2 linked regions of the Homo sapiens genome follow. The protein of the gene in region 1 interacts with the protein of each later gene in a pairwise test. Each region holds a gene or a part of one and is shown on either strand. Other genes may lie near its edges.

Region 1 (2,849 bases):
TCTCTCTCTCTGTCAAATGATCAATACTCAGATTGAGACAATTCCTACTTCTAGGCACACTGGACTAAGGCTTATGGCATGCTACGAGGCAATATCCCACTCTTCAGTCTTGCCCACCTCAAGCCCAACATAGCTACCAAAATAACCTAAAGAAATCTAAACTCTCATCACTTCCACTGTTACCAATAGGATCCTTTACAAAGAACATGTTGGTCTCTGTTCAGAAGGTGTTCCCATCTCTTAGCCTGCTAATACTGCCCATATGATCAATGAATTAAGAGCTTCTAAGAGCTCCTCCAGGTGATCTCTATCTCCGGGCCAAGTCTTTAGATTTAGTTTAGCTTTCAACACCTCTATGCTATAAGCTCTGACGAAAACAGCTTGCATCCTTTGGTTTAAGCTCTAACAAAAACAGCTTGAATCCTTTGGTTAATGCTAATGAATGCATTTCTCCCTTTTTTATCTCTTCTCCCTTTCCATGTTGAGGAGAGAGACAGCACACTGGGATGAAGACAAATACGGCAATAGTGTGTGGCCAGAGTAGGACCACCTCCCACGGTGGTGGGAGGGAATTGGAGGACAAATTACTTTTGATATTTTCCAAGTCACATTTAATGGTTTCATACTGGCCAATTCTTCCCCAAACCCACCTAGCTCAGGAACTCAAGTCTTTCCAACCAAAAGATCAAAGTAAACATTTCTGCTTTCAAAGTTTTATTGAGATGTTGGGGAAAAACAGCCAACATATACATTCCTCATTTCGTCACAACTGGCATTTGATCCACATTCCATAGGCTCCTCTCTGGCTTTGATCTAACATCAGGTCTCCTTGGCAGTTCCCCTTCTGCTGTTCTTGTTGCTGCTTGGTGCTGTGTGAAGCGCACCAGGGCAGAGCCCGCTGGGGGCTCACAAGTGGGAGCGGTAATTGCGATTGGCTGTGGGAAAGGACAGGTTTGCAACAGAGACACGAATTAGAACATTCCCATCAAGACTCTTGTTGCTCAAATCTGCATTTAGTTATTGGAAATAATCTCAGGCCAAGATTTCAGGGTCCTGTGAGAGCTGCCTCCAAGAGGGAGGGCCTGGCAGCAATGTGTGCCTAAGTTTGGCAATCTCCTCCCCATCCCTCACTCACCGTCATCGCCCCGTTTCCTACTTTTCAGGTTGCCCTTACGGTATTTTCTTTTGCTGCCACCTCTCTTGACTCCCTTGTGAGGAGATCGGCTCTTGCTCCTCCTCATGCCATGACTCTTTAATTTGCGGCTGGTCGACATGGTAAGTTCTGCCAAAATGAGGGGCTTTGCAAGGCCCGGGGGCCAGGAGTCTGGGTATTTAAGGCCTTGGCCATTGTGACAGGGAAGGGGCATGGCTCAGCAGGTGGGCGGGGCTCTACTGTGCTGTCACTCACCTTTGCTGCACTTTGGTCACATTTGTGAAATAAGGTGGTCCTTTTCGTGCAGCTCAAGGGCTGCCCTCAGTTTTGAGGTCCTTTTTATGTTAAGTGAGGCTTTCCCAGAGAGGTGTTATTGAGAAACTGAATCCCAGCCCTGTGCCAGGCATTGGATGAGTACAAGAGACCATTCAGATATGCTTCTCCTGCCTGTAGGAAATGTAACAGTCATTGAGTGTGTGTGTATGCATGACTGTTTAAGTCTCTCACAGCATCCAGAGATAATAAATTTATTTCTGTAAGGACTTGACTCTACAGAACCCAATTCAATATGATCAAAATAGAAATATTCCTTCTTTTTCATCTAGGTCAGGATTTCTCAGTCTTGGCACTGTTGACACAATGGGCAGGGTAACTTTCAGTGGGCTGTCTTGTGCACCCTAGGATGTTTGGCAACATCCCTGGCCATTACCCACTGGACACCAGAGAAGCCTGGCAGCTATGACAACCCAAAATATTCCCAAACATTGCCACCTGTTTCTTTGGGAGGCTGGGGAAGTGAGGGAAAAAATGGCTCTGGTTCAGAACAATTAACCTAATCATTTTTTAAAATTCAGTCACAGATATTGATCACATAGCATATGCCATACATTTAGGTGGTAGAAAATTAGTGGAGGATAAACACACGTAGATACTGTGCTCATGGAACTCTCAGCCCACTGGGGAGAAAGCCATTCATCAGATGTCTACATAAATCAGTGAGTAAGTACTTACGGAGTCATTTTGGCTGGAGAAGGGCAGAGGGAAACTCCCTACATGGTACAGGATGAGGCTGGAGGGAGAGACAGAGATCAAACCATGATCAAGTACATTGGGAAGCCTTTAAAAATGTTAAGAGGATGGCATGTGAGATTAGAGGGTGCCAAGTGGGTGATGTATTGACTGGAGGAGCTGTGTAAAGGGAGATGCTACTGTCAACATCAATGGTTCAGCAGAGAGAAAGATTTGATGATGGTTTAGGTCTGGCCAGGAAAGGTGTTGATTGAGATCTAAAGTAGACAAGAGACCAAGGCTTGGTGACGGATTGAATTTGGGAGGTGAAAGCAGATGGTGTCAAGGGTGTGGCTTTTGTTTCTGTATAATGCAGTTATCTGGATGCTGGTGCCATTCATGGGGATAAAGGCCAGACATGGGGAGAGTGATGATCATGTACTTGGTATAAGACATACCAGCTTTGAAGTGCCTTTGACACTTACAAATAGATATATTGAATGATTATTGGTGTATAAGTCATCCAGCCTTTCCTTTTTCCTCCATTACACCTCATAGTAAATGCTTTGCTTTTGAAAATGTTTCTTTCTTTTTTTTTTTTTGAGACCGAGTCTTCTCTTTTGCTCAGGCTGGAGTGCAGTGGCACAATCTTGGTTCACTGCAACATCTGCCTCCTGTGTTCCAGCAA
Region 2 (3,823 bases), on another chromosome or scaffold:
GTAAACACTAGCCCTCTCACCCAGAGAGTAAAGTATCAGTTTCACCATCTTTGATGACAAGTTCAGCAAATAGACACTATTGACCTTATTCACATCATTTGTGGCTGAGAGCTCTCCTGCATATCTAGCCTCCAATGCTGGGAGAATGCCGTTGTCATGGCTGTGAAGACAGCCAGGAGGCGCCCGATTGGTCTATTTACTTTGCTGGCAGAGCTCACAGGCAAACAAGCACCCAGCAGCTTCTGAAGTCAGGCCAAATTCTGCAGGGATTTGAGGCTGGGTTACTGAGCAGCCTCTTTACTTCTGCTGTCCTGTTTGCCTGAACTGTGGGCTCCTTGGGACAGGCACTCAGCCTTGTCCACCACTGTATGGCCAGCCCTGGGCACAGTGCTGGGCCCAGCCTGATGCCCACCAAGTGCTTGCCAAGTGAGGAGGTGCTGAGGCCAGGAGGAAGGACACTTTATCTTCCTCTTTCTCAAGGGTGATTGGGATGGATGTCACTGAAGCAGGAGGGATGAGAATGGGAATGGGAGGTGAATCCTGGCTCTAGCTGTCTCTACTCCTACACGCCCAGGGGACCCTGGCAAGTGGGTTTCTGGTAACCTCAGTTTCCTTGTTGATGGGAAGGTCTGTCCTGCCTGGCTGGGGGGAGGGTGAGAAGGTGCATGGCAGGTGTTGAGCTCAATATCTGCACTGAGAGTCAGTGCTGAACTGCTGAGGAGGGTGGTCAGGGGTGACTGTGGAGCCTTCCTGCTGTTTCAGGGCTCAAAGCTGTGCGCTGTCCTTATGGGTCCCTCAGGGGACTCCCGAGGCCAAAGTAATAACTCATGGGGATGGGGCAGAGAACTAGCAGGTGCTGAGACCTGCGATGTGTCACATACCCCCACTGACTCTCACCTGGCTGGCCCTCAGGCTGGGTAGGACACAGCCTATAAAGGTGAAGAGAATGAGACTTGGAGAAGTGATGGCACTGGCGAGGGCTACAGCTCACAGTGACAGACCTGGGATGCCTGCCCTGGTCTCTGTGATCTCCAAGCCCTTCTGCTCTGGACACATGATCAGGCTCTGTCTCCAGGGCCCCTCACCTGCCAGATCCTCACCCCCCTTTTAAACAGTTAATTTTACCCTTAAAAAAAGTACAGTTGCCTTTCAAATTATGGAAGTAGTGCAGACTTGTTGAGAAAAACACAGAAGGGTATGCAGGATCTTATGACACAGCCTCCTTAACCATGATCCTGCTCCTCAGAGTTAGCCCCTGAGTCCTTCGGTATAGACTCTTCCGGTGCCTTCTATGAAACATAAGGATTTTAAACAATGGGATCCCCAACTTGTCAGGAACTTATTTAATATATATATAAACCAGCCTTATCCTTTTCAATGACTCCAGAGTATTCCACCATATGGCTCTACCACAGTTTACATAACCAGTTCCCCACAGATGGGCACGTTCCTATTTTTGCTCTTATGAGCAGTCCTGCAGTAAATAAGCTGGCATGGGAATCTCTGAGCATGCTGAGCAAGTACTTACACAGGACACGTTCCTAGAAGTGGGAATGCAGGGTAAAAGAAATGCACACTTGGCCAGGTGTGGTGGCTCACACCTGAAATCCCAACACTTTGGGAGGCCGAGGCGGGAGGATCACCTGAGGAGTTCGTGACTAGCCTGGCCAACACAGTGGAACCCCATCTCTACTAAAAATACAAAAATTAGCCAGGCACGGTGGTGCACGCCTGTAATTCCAGCTACTTGGGAGGCTGAGGCAGGAGAATCGCTTGAGCCCGGGAGGCAGAGGTTTCAGTGAGTTGAGATCGTGTGCCACTGCACTCCAGCCTGAGCGACAGAGCCAGGCTCTGTCTCAAAAAAAAAAAAAAAGAATCACACATTAAGAAGTGTTGGCCCACACTACCCTTTCACCCCTGGTGGTGGGAGGACCAAGTCCTCCCCACCCATCTGACAGGTGAAATGGCATTGCAACTTAAGGTGCTTTCTTTGAGTTGGTTAGACTGAAAAACCTGTCGGGATTTCAGGCCATTCGTATTTGTCTTACTGTTACCTGTTCTGATTTTCCTGCTAGGTTGCTTGTCTTGTAGAATTTTTGGGAACTTTTCATACACTACAGCTTTAACACAAAGTGATTATGTCAAGTAACCCTCTCTCCTGTTTCAATGACTGAACAAGGAAGTCTATCTCCACTTCATCCACTTATTGATAAACAGAATCTATTAAACACCACCGCCTACATAGTACCATGTGACTGGTGAGGCAACCTCTGCCCTGGACGTTTCCCGCTGTGCCCTAAATCCCACAACGAAGCTGCCTGAGAGGTCACCGCCATGCCTGCCTCACCCTACCCCTGCTCCCAGGCACCTCACCTGGCCTGCACGGGAACAGTGATGCTATTTGGGAAACAGCCCTGGTCCCAAGAAGGGGTGTGGAGGAAACTCCAGGACAGAACACTGCTCTGCAGGGGACTTCCATCTGCCTGGGCTCAGATGTGGGGATGAGGTGGGCCACGGCAGGCGGCATAGCCACAAACCCTGTGGCCGTCTCTTCTCCTTGCATTCTCCCCTGAATCCTCATGACATCCCACACTCATTCTTAGTCCCCACTGTCTTCCCTTTGCTTTCTAACCCTCCCTACCTTCTTCAGATTTAGAACAGTATGTGCTACTGGCACTGAGTGAATTATCACTCCTGGTTAGCTGTTCCTCTCTTCTGAGACAGGCTGTGTCTCCAAAGCCATCCCAGTTACCAGCCAATAGACAGGAAGTTGCTTACTCGGGGAATGGCGGACACCTTCACTTTGGCCCTAGAATCACATTTGGCCTACTTTGGTCACTCCCAGGTGATCCTGGGTGAGATGAGAAGGACTGAATGATGGCTCTATACTCCCTCCACCCAACTCTATACACTGAAGAGGAAGAACTTCTGCAAAATTCTGGGACTTGCTTTGCAGGTTCAAGGTGGTGTGGCTCCAGGATTCAGACCCATCTTAGCTGCAGACCCAAACAGGAGCCTGCGCTACCTCCACAGCCTTCACCCTGCCTTAGCTTGGACACTAACTGCCTCCTCCTGCTCCATGCAGTCACAGGGGTCCAGAGCCCATTTCTGCGGGGTGGGCTTGCTCCTCTGCCTGAGTCACCGCCTGTGGCTAGGATCTCCTGCAGCTGAAAGCAGCAGCGAGTGCAGGGTGTCTACTCCCAGCAGTATATCCTTATGACCCTGAGTTCCCTCTAAGGGGAGGAGCGAGGATGAGCTGCATGTGCAGGCCTGCAGCACTTGGGTAAGGAGAGAAGTGGTGGGAGAAAGCAAGAAGCAGAGGGATCAGGCCAGGCGCGGTGGCTCCTGCTTGTAATCCCAGCACTTTGGGAGGCTGAGGTGGGTGGATTGCTTGAGCCCAGCGGTTCGAGACCAGCCTGGCCAACATGGTGAAACCCCATCTTTACTAAAAAAATACAAAAATTAGCCGGGCGTGGTGGTGCACGCCTATAATCCCAGCTACTCGGGAGGCTGAGGCAGGAGAATCACTTGAACCCAGGAGGCAGAGGTTGCAGTGAGCTGAGACTGTGCCACTGCACTCTAGTCTGGGCAACAGAAGGAGACTTTGTCTCAAAAACCACAAAAACAAAAAAGCAGGGGGAACTGCAGCAGGGAAAGCCAGGGGCTGCATGGATTCTGGGTGCTTTTGAAGGTAAACATAACATGATGATGATGAAGATGACAGAACAGTACAGGGTACTAGAGAAAACTGTCTGCACTGCTGATAAATAAAGGGGAACCAATAAGTGAGACAGGAGAAGCTACAACTGCTTGGCTGCATAAA

What was found.
Region 2: the proteins of TNP1 (region 1) and PPARD interact in a two-hybrid assay, tested with the Homo sapiens proteins (one study listed by BioGRID).

Annotation. Positions count from the first base shown.
Region 1 is NC_000002.12:216,858,761-216,861,609, forward strand, and holds TNP1 (spermatid nuclear transition protein 1), read right to left. Parts: upstream 1,305-2,849; 5' UTR 1,275-1,304; coding exon 1,136-1,274; intron 936-1,135; coding exon 907-935; 3' UTR 698-906; downstream 1-697. UniProt on the Homo sapiens protein: Plays a key role in the replacement of histones to protamine in the elongating spermatids of mammals.
Region 2 is NC_000006.12:35,411,735-35,415,557, reverse strand, and holds part of PPARD (peroxisome proliferator-activated receptor delta), read right to left. Parts: intron 1-3,823. UniProt on the Homo sapiens protein: Ligand-activated transcription factor key mediator of energy metabolism in adipose tissues. Receptor that binds peroxisome proliferators such as hypolipidemic drugs and fatty acids.